Regions from separate parts of the Homo sapiens genome. Here region 1 is linked to region 2. The links come from fine-mapping of genetic effects on gene expression. Tissue or cell type: skeletal muscle. Region 2 holds a variant in brackets; the other region holds the start of a gene. All regions are shown on one strand. Distances are from middle to middle. Region 1 holds the start of LRRN3 (leucine rich repeat neuronal 3). Region 2 overlaps IMMP2L (inner mitochondrial membrane peptidase subunit 2).

Evidence for each region.
Region 1: it holds the start of LRRN3, and the variant in region 2 is fine-mapped to the expression of LRRN3 in skeletal muscle (GTEx, PIP 0.99).

Annotation. Positions count from the first base shown.
Region 1 is chr7:111,088,477-111,093,871 of GRCh38, forward strand. LRRN3 (leucine rich repeat neuronal 3) reads left to right here and starts at 2,651. Exons shown (of 3, transcript NM_001099658.2): 1 at 2,651-3,028. The region is part of intron 3 of IMMP2L (inner mitochondrial membrane peptidase subunit 2); the gene reads right to left.
Region 2 is chr7:111,143,068-111,148,462 of GRCh38, forward strand. The region is part of intron 3 of IMMP2L (inner mitochondrial membrane peptidase subunit 2); the gene reads right to left. Among named protein-coding and RNA genes, the nearest start is that of LRRN3, 55 kb to the left of the region's middle. The variant G/C (reference allele first, on the strand shown) is at 2,556.

The DNA.
Region 1 (5,395 bases), 55 kb before region 2:
GGAGAGTAAGAAGAAGGAAGAAAAGAAGGAGAAGAAGGAAAAGAAGAATTAGCAGAGACCTGTCAATCATCCAGTAGATGATAGGGTAATATGGTGGAAAAAACCTGGAATACCTGAGGGGCTCTATCCTGGCTTTAATGTGCCAACTGTGTGCTAAGATTCCATGGTTCTCATTTGATGATCACTCACAATTGTATTAATTCAAAAACCCTAAAATCCTTACTGTATTACAATGTAACGTCTTCATATGGTACTTCATTATATAGATGTGATACCAAAATAATTTTTTCATGTATCTTTGGAGAGAGCCACATTTCATATTTACAGTTAAGGACTGAACGCCCTGATAAGTGAAAAAACACCCAAAACACACACTGATTCCATAAAGCTGCTGATGCTCTTGGAACAAGATAGAAATTCCAGTCAAAGAACAGAATCGCCATCCTTTTCATCCAAAGCCAGAGTCATTTTCTCTTTCACATTAAAATCTCATTTCTAGTGCTCCATGATATTAAATTTATAAAAATGAGTATAAAATATTTTAAATTTATCATGTACCTACATTAAAAGGACAATTGCAGGAAGAGCACTCTGATCTCCCACTTTCAAAAGAGTGATCATTTAGTTAAAACAACTTCCTATGAAATAATGTAAGATAACATATAAATGGCTACCTTTAACAATTCTAACTGAATCAAAACTGAAAAGATTTTTTCTTGATTTCTGAAACAGACTGAAATTTAAGATATTAGGTATGACTGCAGTTTCATTTAAAAACCAAGAGAGGAGTTTAATCATGTATCTGACTATCACAACTTACCTTCATTATGGGAGTGCATTATAATTGGTTTGATTACTGGACTTGTCAATTATACAGTCAATACCAATCAATGAAAATTAATCACTTAAGATACCATGGCATAAATAAAAATTCTCTTTTTACAAATAATTATCACAATTTTAAGATTATTCTTCCATATGTGGAAATAAATCCTGCAGATACTGAAATAATTTGGAATATTAAAGAAACTAAGATTTGCTAGATTAAAATTAAGGGGTAAGAAGGATGATTATTACTATTATTAAAAGTACATTAAATTATATGTAAATATACTCTAACACAACATCCCAACACTCAACCATGATCCCTAACATACAGAACTGACTCAGTGCTTTCTGAGTAAATACTAGAGTATCCAGTAAATAATAAAACCTTACAATAATATTCTGAAATAAGTATTAGGTTAAATGAGATGCTACTTTTATCTTGAACTTATTTTGATTCATTTGAATAAATTCTTATAGAAAAAAACATTTGGGAACTGTTTCTAGAAAACTACAGAGTGAAAATATTCAGTATTTAAAGACAAGCCTACTGTTTAAAATTTTTCCTGGTATTATTATTATTATAATAACTGCAAACTATTGTTCTATGTCATGTCAATAAGCACTTAAGGAGCAATTAGATGTGAAGGTTTTGTTTTTTTTTTCCTAAGTAAATCTAATAAGTGCCATTTCTCTTTACTCCACTAGAGGGTAGTCTCTCAAAACTGGGGTTGGAGTCATGACTAGCCTGCTTTTGACCTGTTGATATATTAATCCTCATGTTCCATTCTCCTCAACAAGATGTTTCTCTAGTATACTAATTAAGGTTGTAAAACATGCATTTTTAAAACTGCTTTTTGATTTTTCATGTATGTTCTTTCAGAAATATGCACTGCTATGTGTTTCTGTGTTTTCCAAATTTCTGGTAATTAATAAAAATGTTTTACATGTATGGCTTATATAGTATATTTTCCTGGGAAATATCCTTTCAGAGTTAATAGGCCTAAGAATAAAGATAGTCTTTTAAATAATTTAACTTATTACAATCGAAATATTTCCCCAGAGTGGTAAAAAATACATCCTAAATACACACACACACTCACAGATACACAAACACACCTACACATGTACCCATTCATATGTAGCTCCTAGATTTATTACATCATATAAAGAGAAGTCAGTGAGTATAATTAGAAATACATATTTTTAAAAAGTACCCCCTCAAATGCCAATGTTGTGAATTACAGAGAGGCAAATATATGCTTTATTTTAAAAATCTGGTCAATCCAGACAAGAAATGTCATTGCTAAAAAAAAAAAAAAAAAAGTGTTATTGAACACCAAGCACATATGCTAAATTAAGTAGGATCTATAGAGAACCAAATGCCACTCAAAACAGTTGCAAGCTTCTCTTCTTAAATAATGCAGTCATTGCTGAACTTCAGAGACGGAGTTGGAGGTTTGAGTCTCTACCAGGTGTTTTTAATATTTAGGAAATCCTTATCAGTAGTGTGTCCTCTCTATTTGCAGACTGAAAACATATTTCTCTGAATGACTGATAACCTAAAATTGAGAAAACTTGTCAAAAATTCCCAACATTCCCTCAGAAAGGAAAAAAAAGAAGGAAAATGATACCTAGGAAAACATGCAAGCCTGTTTCATTTATTTGTATCCTAAGCAGCAGTGTCATAGAACAGACAGTTTGTTTCAGCCAACCAGACTGGAGCAGCTGCGAGTGCTACATCTTGGCTGTCTGAAGCGATTGGCTCCTCTCTGGGGAGTGGAGGGTGTTCAGTTATTAATGACCGCTGAGCAGGCAGCACCATGTCAGTGTGACAACTGATCGGGTGAACGATGCACCACTAACCACCATGGAAACAAGGAAAAATAAAGCCAGCTCACAGGATCTCTCTTCACTGGATTGAGAGCCTCAGCCTGCCGACTGAGAAAAAGAGTTCCAGGAAAAAGAAGGAATCCCGGCTGCAGCCTCCTGCCTTCCTTTATATTTTAAAATAGAGAGATAAGATTGCGTGCATGTGTGCATATCTATAGTATATATTTTGTACACTTTGTTACACAGACACACAAATGCACCTATTTATACCGGGCAAGAACACAACCATGTGATTATCTCAACCAAGGAACTGAGGAATCCAGCACGCAAGGACATCGGAGGTGGGCTAGCACTGAAACTGCTTTTCAAGGTAAGTTTAAAATACACATATATTTTAAAATACGTTCTATTTCTTGTCTCTTCGATGATCATGTTTTTACACCTAAATCCTCCTTTGATGTCTTCTTCTTGTCTGAATTCTAAGAGCATTTTTCTTTTATTGCACTTTTGAGAAGAAATTCACATGCAAAACCCAGCTGGCTCTGTGTGTGCCTAGCTGTGTTTGTGAGATTCTCCAACATGCATTTTACTAGCTTGAATGCCCATTAGAGGATGTGAGTGGGAGAGAAAAAGCAGTGTTGGGGGGAGGAGAAAAAGGAGGGAGACAGAAGAGAAGGGAACAGTGGGGGAGAAGAGAGGAGGAGAGGGAGAGAGAAGGAGATGGGGAAGAGAGAAGACAGAGAGGAGACAGAGAGGAGAGGAGAGTCACGGGTGATGGGGTGCAATTTTCCTTTTTCTTCACATTATTTGTAGTGAAAAGCAGATCACACATTATTCTCTGTTTTGAAATCAACCCACCAAATGGGGCATTTTTATTTTGTCTCATCCAGTGGATGCAAATTAAGGCAAATGCTGTTGTATGTTAAGAGCTAAACCACTAAGCAGAGTAGCAGAATGAGCATATCACAAACAGTTATTGAATTTCTGCCAGGCTACATCTTACGGACTGGGGTAAATGACTTCCCTTTAATAACATCCCCTCGCTGGTCTGAAGGGACAGTGCAAATGTCTGATTGCTAATGCAGCTGGAACTGCCACACACTAGGTGAAAGGATCCCATGAACCAGAAGAGTTCTAATCTTTGGTAATTAACAGGATCACAGCAGGATGGCTTTAAAGTACATTTCCTATTTAAGAAAATTGTTTGTTCTAACCAACTGCTATATTCCCTTTGCTGTTGTTGAGCTGGATGGCTTAATTCGGCTCTAATTTATTCATTTTTAACAATATGTCCTTGTTTCTCTGCCTCTAATTTCAGTGAAAGCAGGCTATGAATATGAGTAGAACCGTCCTAATTTAGTGAAAAGGGGATAATGTGAAAACAAAAATAGAAGTAAAGGTTCAAAATATCTACCTAGAAAATAGTGTGCTCTGGTACCATAAATATTACTGATATATTTCTCATCTTTAGTTTCAGAAGCAATGCCTTTGAGACAGAATTACTCTCAGTAAACTCTATGAGCATCCATGTATTGATGATTCATGGAATTCAGTGTGGGTTAATTTTTACTTCCAATCTTGTAAAGGGAAGCCAGCTACTTAGAATATGCTTTCAAACAGACAACACCAATTGAGGATATTCATGGAAACATTCACTGCCCTCTTTACTGGGTCCTGGAAAGACAGTAAAAGAAACCTAGCATTTGTATTTCATCTTCTGGAGCTCTCTCCTGCCTTCTTTTAGTTCAACTAACCACACAGTTAACAGAGTCAGCTTCTTTGAAACTGTGGGTTATTTTTTTCCACAACTGTGATTTCAGAGCTATTATTGGTTTCCTAGTTTGTAATATAAGCCAAAGCAAAAAGACAATAACCAGCCACTTAGATCCTGCCACTTTCCCATAAATGTGTCAAAAAAATGAGTCAGTTTACAACATGTAATATAAGAAGTCAATTAATTCCAGTGACCTTTGTAAATGATGACAATAAAGCAGCTCTGACAATATGCCAGTGGCTTCGATTTTCTCTCTGTAAGATGAACAAGTTTAAGAAGAGGGTTCCTGCTCAGAGAAAAATGAAAGGTGCTGAAGCATCAGCTTGCAATATTGGCAGCTTTGCTCGCTCTGCCTCAAATGCCACATGCAATCTATAAAAAAAACCAAAATGATTTATTACAAAAAGGAAAAAGTGTTTTATTTGCTTTTCTGCTATTTATTAAAAGTGCTGCTTTTGAAACAGACCAGATCTGATATTTTGAGGTACCTCCTAAGTTCCTAACCAAGAGGAAAAGACTTGAAGTAGATACTCAACCCTCTGATTTCAAACTCCTATATAATGTAGCATTGCAGTATTTAATTCAGTTTTTCTTAGACCTTTTCCAGGGAAAGTTTGCATGCCAGACACACATTCTTAAATCTAACCCGCCTTATTTTAAAATTGCAATAGATGACACCTAAGAACAGTGGATTCACTCTTTAACCTTAGTAAAGCTCACATACATATTTTGTGGATTACAGAGATCAGTAATGTGCCCACTTCAGTCTGAGAAATACCAACACTCCAGGCCCCCGGTGTTGCCACTCAGTGTGTGCCAGTGAGTTTGGTGATTTGATCAGCACCTACGAATGCCAGATGATGGACATTTGTGTATGACTGGAAGATTTACCCATAGTCTCCCCAAATCATGTAACTATACCAGAAATAGCACCTTCCTGGCAAGACAATTCAAAGGACCATT
Region 2 (5,395 bases):
GAGGTCAAAAAAGACAAAAATATTTGCAGATATCATGAAAAAAATCAACATGTCATTTAAAAACTAAAGACATCCATCTTTGGAAACTGCCATTTTATTACACAATGAGAAGAAAACAAAAGCATGGATTTCAAAAAGAGGTGACAGATAATTATGATACTGTATAAATATTAAATGCAATTGTGATGTTATAACTACTAAGAAGTAATTTAATTTTCTGAATACATATCTGAGGAATCCTACCCCCAACCCCCAACCTCTGCGCCAGGCTAAATAAGCGAGGTAAACACTCATGACACAAGGCTATGCAGCATTCACACTTGAGGTCAAAAATTCCAAAAATAAATCCATAACAACAGGTGTTATCCTAAAAGCACTGAGATGTTCCCCGTGAAAGACCAACAATTTTGGATTTTTAAGAAAATAAAGTAGAAATGCTCTATCCAAACACATTTTTTAAAACTCACCTTGGGTCATTTCACAAATATTTATTTCTTAGCAATCCATTTTCCTTTGCTTATAAATTCCTGTTTCACTGATTTCAAATGAAAGAATTCTTTTACAGGCACCTCTTACTAAAGCCAAGAAATGGAATAATACCTTTAAAAAAGATAACTGTAACTGTGGAAAGGCACAGAAAGTAAATATAAACCACAGTCAGTGACTGATCCTCCATGAGGGCCATATGAATCTCAGGATATTTATTGTGCTATCTACGTGAGAAAATGCATTCTCATTTTAAATAATAACACTAGTAATCTCTTTGTCCATTAGAAATAAACCAGTGCAGATACTGTATATTCAAAGTAGCCCATATGCACTAATCAATCATCTAACCAAAGCTTTAAAATGGTTAGTTTTCTATTTCCCTTATTCATTCATTACCCTACCCTGTTTGGAAAACTTTAAAAAATTATTATTTCCATCTCAGTGTCACAGATACACTGCAACATTGTCAAATAAAATGATTGTTTCTGGACTAACAAAATCTCTATTTTTCTTACAAGGCAAACCCATCATGTTGTGACAAAACCTACTACATTTACTAGAGAAAAGAAGAGCCAAAACTATGAGCACAAATAATACTTCTCTATGTCTCCCCAGTATTTGACATTAGTAACATAATGTGCCAGAGTTTCCCTGAATAACTGCAAGTTCCTCTTCCTACAATACTTCTGTAAATACACAATATGGCCACATTCAATTTAAACTTCCAGTTAGACAATATCTAGTCAATGTCTACCTCACAGGAATAGTCGTAAATTCTAGGAACATAGCAGTGAGCAAGATAGATCATAATTTCTGCCCTTGTGGATCTTAGAGTTCGAAAGTCACATAAGCTGGGAGTCACATATATTTGGAGAGTTTAAGGGAGAAATTATACCTTCCATAGAGAAGCTGATCATAATGCTCATTGGTACAGTAGCTCAAATACAGTGTGTCTATCTCAGAAGTGACAGGATCATCCTTTGTGTTCCTACAGTTTTCACTTCTTTTTCCCCTTTCTTACTATCCAAAATACTTACGCTTATTTAAGAGTTGCTGAGTTAAAACATATTAAATCCACGGGGGACAGAAATTCTAGGAGACTGGCCATATAAAAAACAGTAGACAAGAAATAAGTGAATGGATTACAATGAAAGAGATACCTCCCACAAGCAAATGAGGATTCTTGAGCATTTATTCAATAGATGTTTCTTAACTATTTATGTGCCAGTACTGAGTAAACAATGTCGAGCAACACACAGGCCCTAATGTTACTAACAGTCTTGCAAAGGAGAAAGACATTAAGCAAATGATCATTAAATATATAAATACAAACTGTGATAAATGTTATGAAAGCAAAACATGAATATTGTCTTAAAGGGGCCTGATCTGAACTGTAGGTTCAGGGAGGATTTCTCTGAGAAGATATTGTCTAACCTGGGAGAGTTGAGCTAAATAGGTGCAAAGAAGGAGGAAGAACCTTCAGGGTAGAAATGTGCATATGTTGTGTAGAGTTTGGGAAAAGCAAGGTAGGATCTACAACAAAAGAATATGTCTAGGTACAGTGTGGCTGGAGGAGAGGAAACTAGAGAATATGCTGAGAAATACAACTGAAGACATATACTCATGCAAGTATATGAAATATACTAAGGATTTGGATCTTCATCTAGCAAGAAGCAGCTTTGTGAACATATGCACATAAGTCAAAAGGGAATATGTGTAGTTGCCTCTGTAGAGAGGAACCATGGCTGGAGGACAGAAGCAGGAAGGAGACTTACTTGTCACTGTATAGGCTGTTGTGCCTTTTCAATTTTATCTTTGTATGTCTATTACCTATTTAAATGAAAACAATGTCATCTAGATATTTAACTCACTGGCTCTATTAGGAAGAATTAATTATCGGAGACCAAACAAAAGGCCATTGCTCTGGTCTGGGTAGGCCAAGCAGCAGCAGAGATAGTAAGAAGTTCAGAATGATAATGGATTTGATAATAAAATCAACAATTTGTTCCAATGGACTGCCAAGTAAGTAAGAAGATACAATAGGAACAGCATGTACCCTAGATGAG[G/C]CATTAGGTGAACTCTTCCCACTTGCTCTCAAGTGTCAACTGAGCATCGCGTCAGGGTGAATGCTGAGTCTGGTGGTTGCAAAGACTTAAGTAATACTAAGGGACTATTAGAATCATGAGCCACTTCTTACTAAGAAGCACAATTCTATGAAGCAAAAACTTGGGAGAAAAACAATGTGTATAACTCAGAGCAGTTAAAAATAAATAAACAAATAAAAACACTATTCCAAAGGATGCATTTGGCAAATTGTGCTGTTAAAGGCAAATGCTAAAAGTCAGCTATTCTCTGGATATGTTGGCTCCATTCATCATTCAACGCCCATTCAGAGTAATTATTGAAAAGTATGGAAGCTAGAATGCACATATACTGACTTAGGAGAGATTAAAGGAATACCAACAAAAACTAAATTTTGTCTGAAGGTTAAAAATGAATTCAGAGGAATATAAAAATAAGTGAAGAGAAGTTGTAATGTAATATACCCACAAATGAGTGCAATAGCTAAAATATCTTTCAGGGAACTACAAATGCTAATTAAAAACTTATAATTCAAAATAGATGGATCTGTGCTGTTCTTGTCAATATAACATGGTTTTTTATGAGGAAGGAAAGAGGTGGGGGAGGGAGGGGAGGAAAGGGAGGAAGGGAGGGAGGGAGGGAAGATTATCTTGTTTCTCTGATTTCTTGCTAGCTTTAAAAAGAGCTAAATATTATTTTTCTTTTAATATTAAATTCCCTTTCACTTATCTGGATCAAGAATGTCTTCTCAAATCCTCTCTCTAATCCAAGAAAAACACTAAAGAAAAATAAGCATACTTATAGGGAGTACAGAAATTGCCACTAGAACCCAAATGACAGCCTGTTTGTTTAGCTTAGAACCAGACCTCAAAAACTAATAGGAGAACAGTCAAACATCTTAGAAGTGCATTTCCAGCAGCCTAGGCAGAGTTAATATTAAATGTTGCACAGAAAGCAAGAGCCCCTACATCCTGCTCTATCATCTAAATTGTAAACTCCACGAGGGCAAGAACCAAGTCTGCTCTATGCCCCGGGTCAACACAGTAACAGGAATGTAAAAAGATGTTAAAAAAATATTTATTAAGTTAATGGATGAAAAAGGGAATTAAGAAAGAAACGTTTTGAAAAAAACAAATCGATATTGTTCTATCTGCAATTGAATTAGATGTGTTCTGGAGGCAGAAGCCTTAACTGGGTGCCAGAGGTAACACTGAGTTCGACAGATGCTGCTACTACTAAATGTATCCTCCATCTCCTAACATTTCTTTCATTGGCTCCATCTTTGTGTCATACGTTTCTTGGCTAAGGTCTTGGCTTTATATTCAAAATAATTAATTTGTTCTTCCTGTGGCTCCATTTTATTTCAGAGCTCTTCTATTTAGTTTTCTACTTTCACATTCACACTTTAATTTTAAAAGCTATTTCTTATTATCTGTTCCTTTTTCTTAGATGCTAATCTTGTTTTAGAGACTCAATATTCTCTCAAATTATTTGGAAGAATTTATAATTTCTATAAGTTTTCCATTATTCCCTAACTAAATTTTGTTTCCTCTCAGGTCAGGGGGCTGTTGTTGCTGCCGTTGTTGTTGCTGTTGTTGTTGTTGTTTTAAATTCAGTCCTATACATTCACTGTTTTGAATCTTCCTCAAATATCTTGTGATTGATGGTTCACATAAATCAATAAGAAATTGGTTTAATTAATATAAAGGTCTTGCATGGGACTTTTCTGAAATTCTTTATCTTTCCCAACGGTTTCCCTCCAAAATGAGAGCATTGACTGAAAGTTGTCTGTAGGCAACAGAGACTTGTAAACTGGAAGGGTTACATCAACATGCATGGAAAAATATGAGAACACCTGTTGGCAATATCTCTAAGCAGCCACATAAAAAGTGATTTATCCAGTAGGTCACTTTAGTGCACTCTTCTCTGAGACATAGCTCCTTTCTCCTCTCATTACTTTTCCACCATGGAGATTCAGACTCCTTAGGCTGAGTCCTCTGCTTCACTCTGGGCCTGAAAGCACATTAGTGGCTCTAGCCCTCCATAGACAGACTGTTTTAATTTTAGTGGTTGCGAGGCAGGAGCGACCACTTCTGGAATGGTAAAGTAAGGACCTCCAAAAATCTACTCCTCCATAAAAGCAACCAAAACACAAACAATTGTCAAAATAAACTTTTTCAGAATTCCAAAAGTTAAACAAATGCTTGCAATGTTCCAAGAAGAATTTATTCAAGAAAAATAGCTGAATCTTGCTAAGAACAGTGAGCTTTCTATGCTTTTAAATTGCTGCTTTGGGAAACAGTTTGGTAGTTCCTGAAAATGTTAAAAATACAGTTACCATATGACCCAGCATTTCAACTCCTAGGTATACACCCCAAGAGTACCGAAAACATATGTCTATGCTAAACCCTCTACACCAGTGTTCATAGTAACATTATTCATATCAGGCAAAAAATAGAAGCAGCCCAAGTTTTCATCATCTGTTGAATGGATAATAAAACGTGGTACATCTATACAATGGAATTTTATTTGGCAATAAAAATAAATGAAGTTCTGATACATGCTAAAATATTGTGGAATCTTGAAAACATTATGCTAACTGAAAGAATCCACTCACAATAAGTTAAATATTGTATGATTCCAATTACATGAAATAGTGAAAACAGGCAAATCTATAGAAACAGAAAGTAGAAGTAGACAGTGCTTGCTAGCCCTAGGGTAGAGGAAGGAATAGGGAATGATTGCTAGAGTGTGTGCGTTTCTTTTGGGGATAAGGACAAATGTTCTGAAATTCCATAGTGGTAATAATGTACAACTCTGTAAA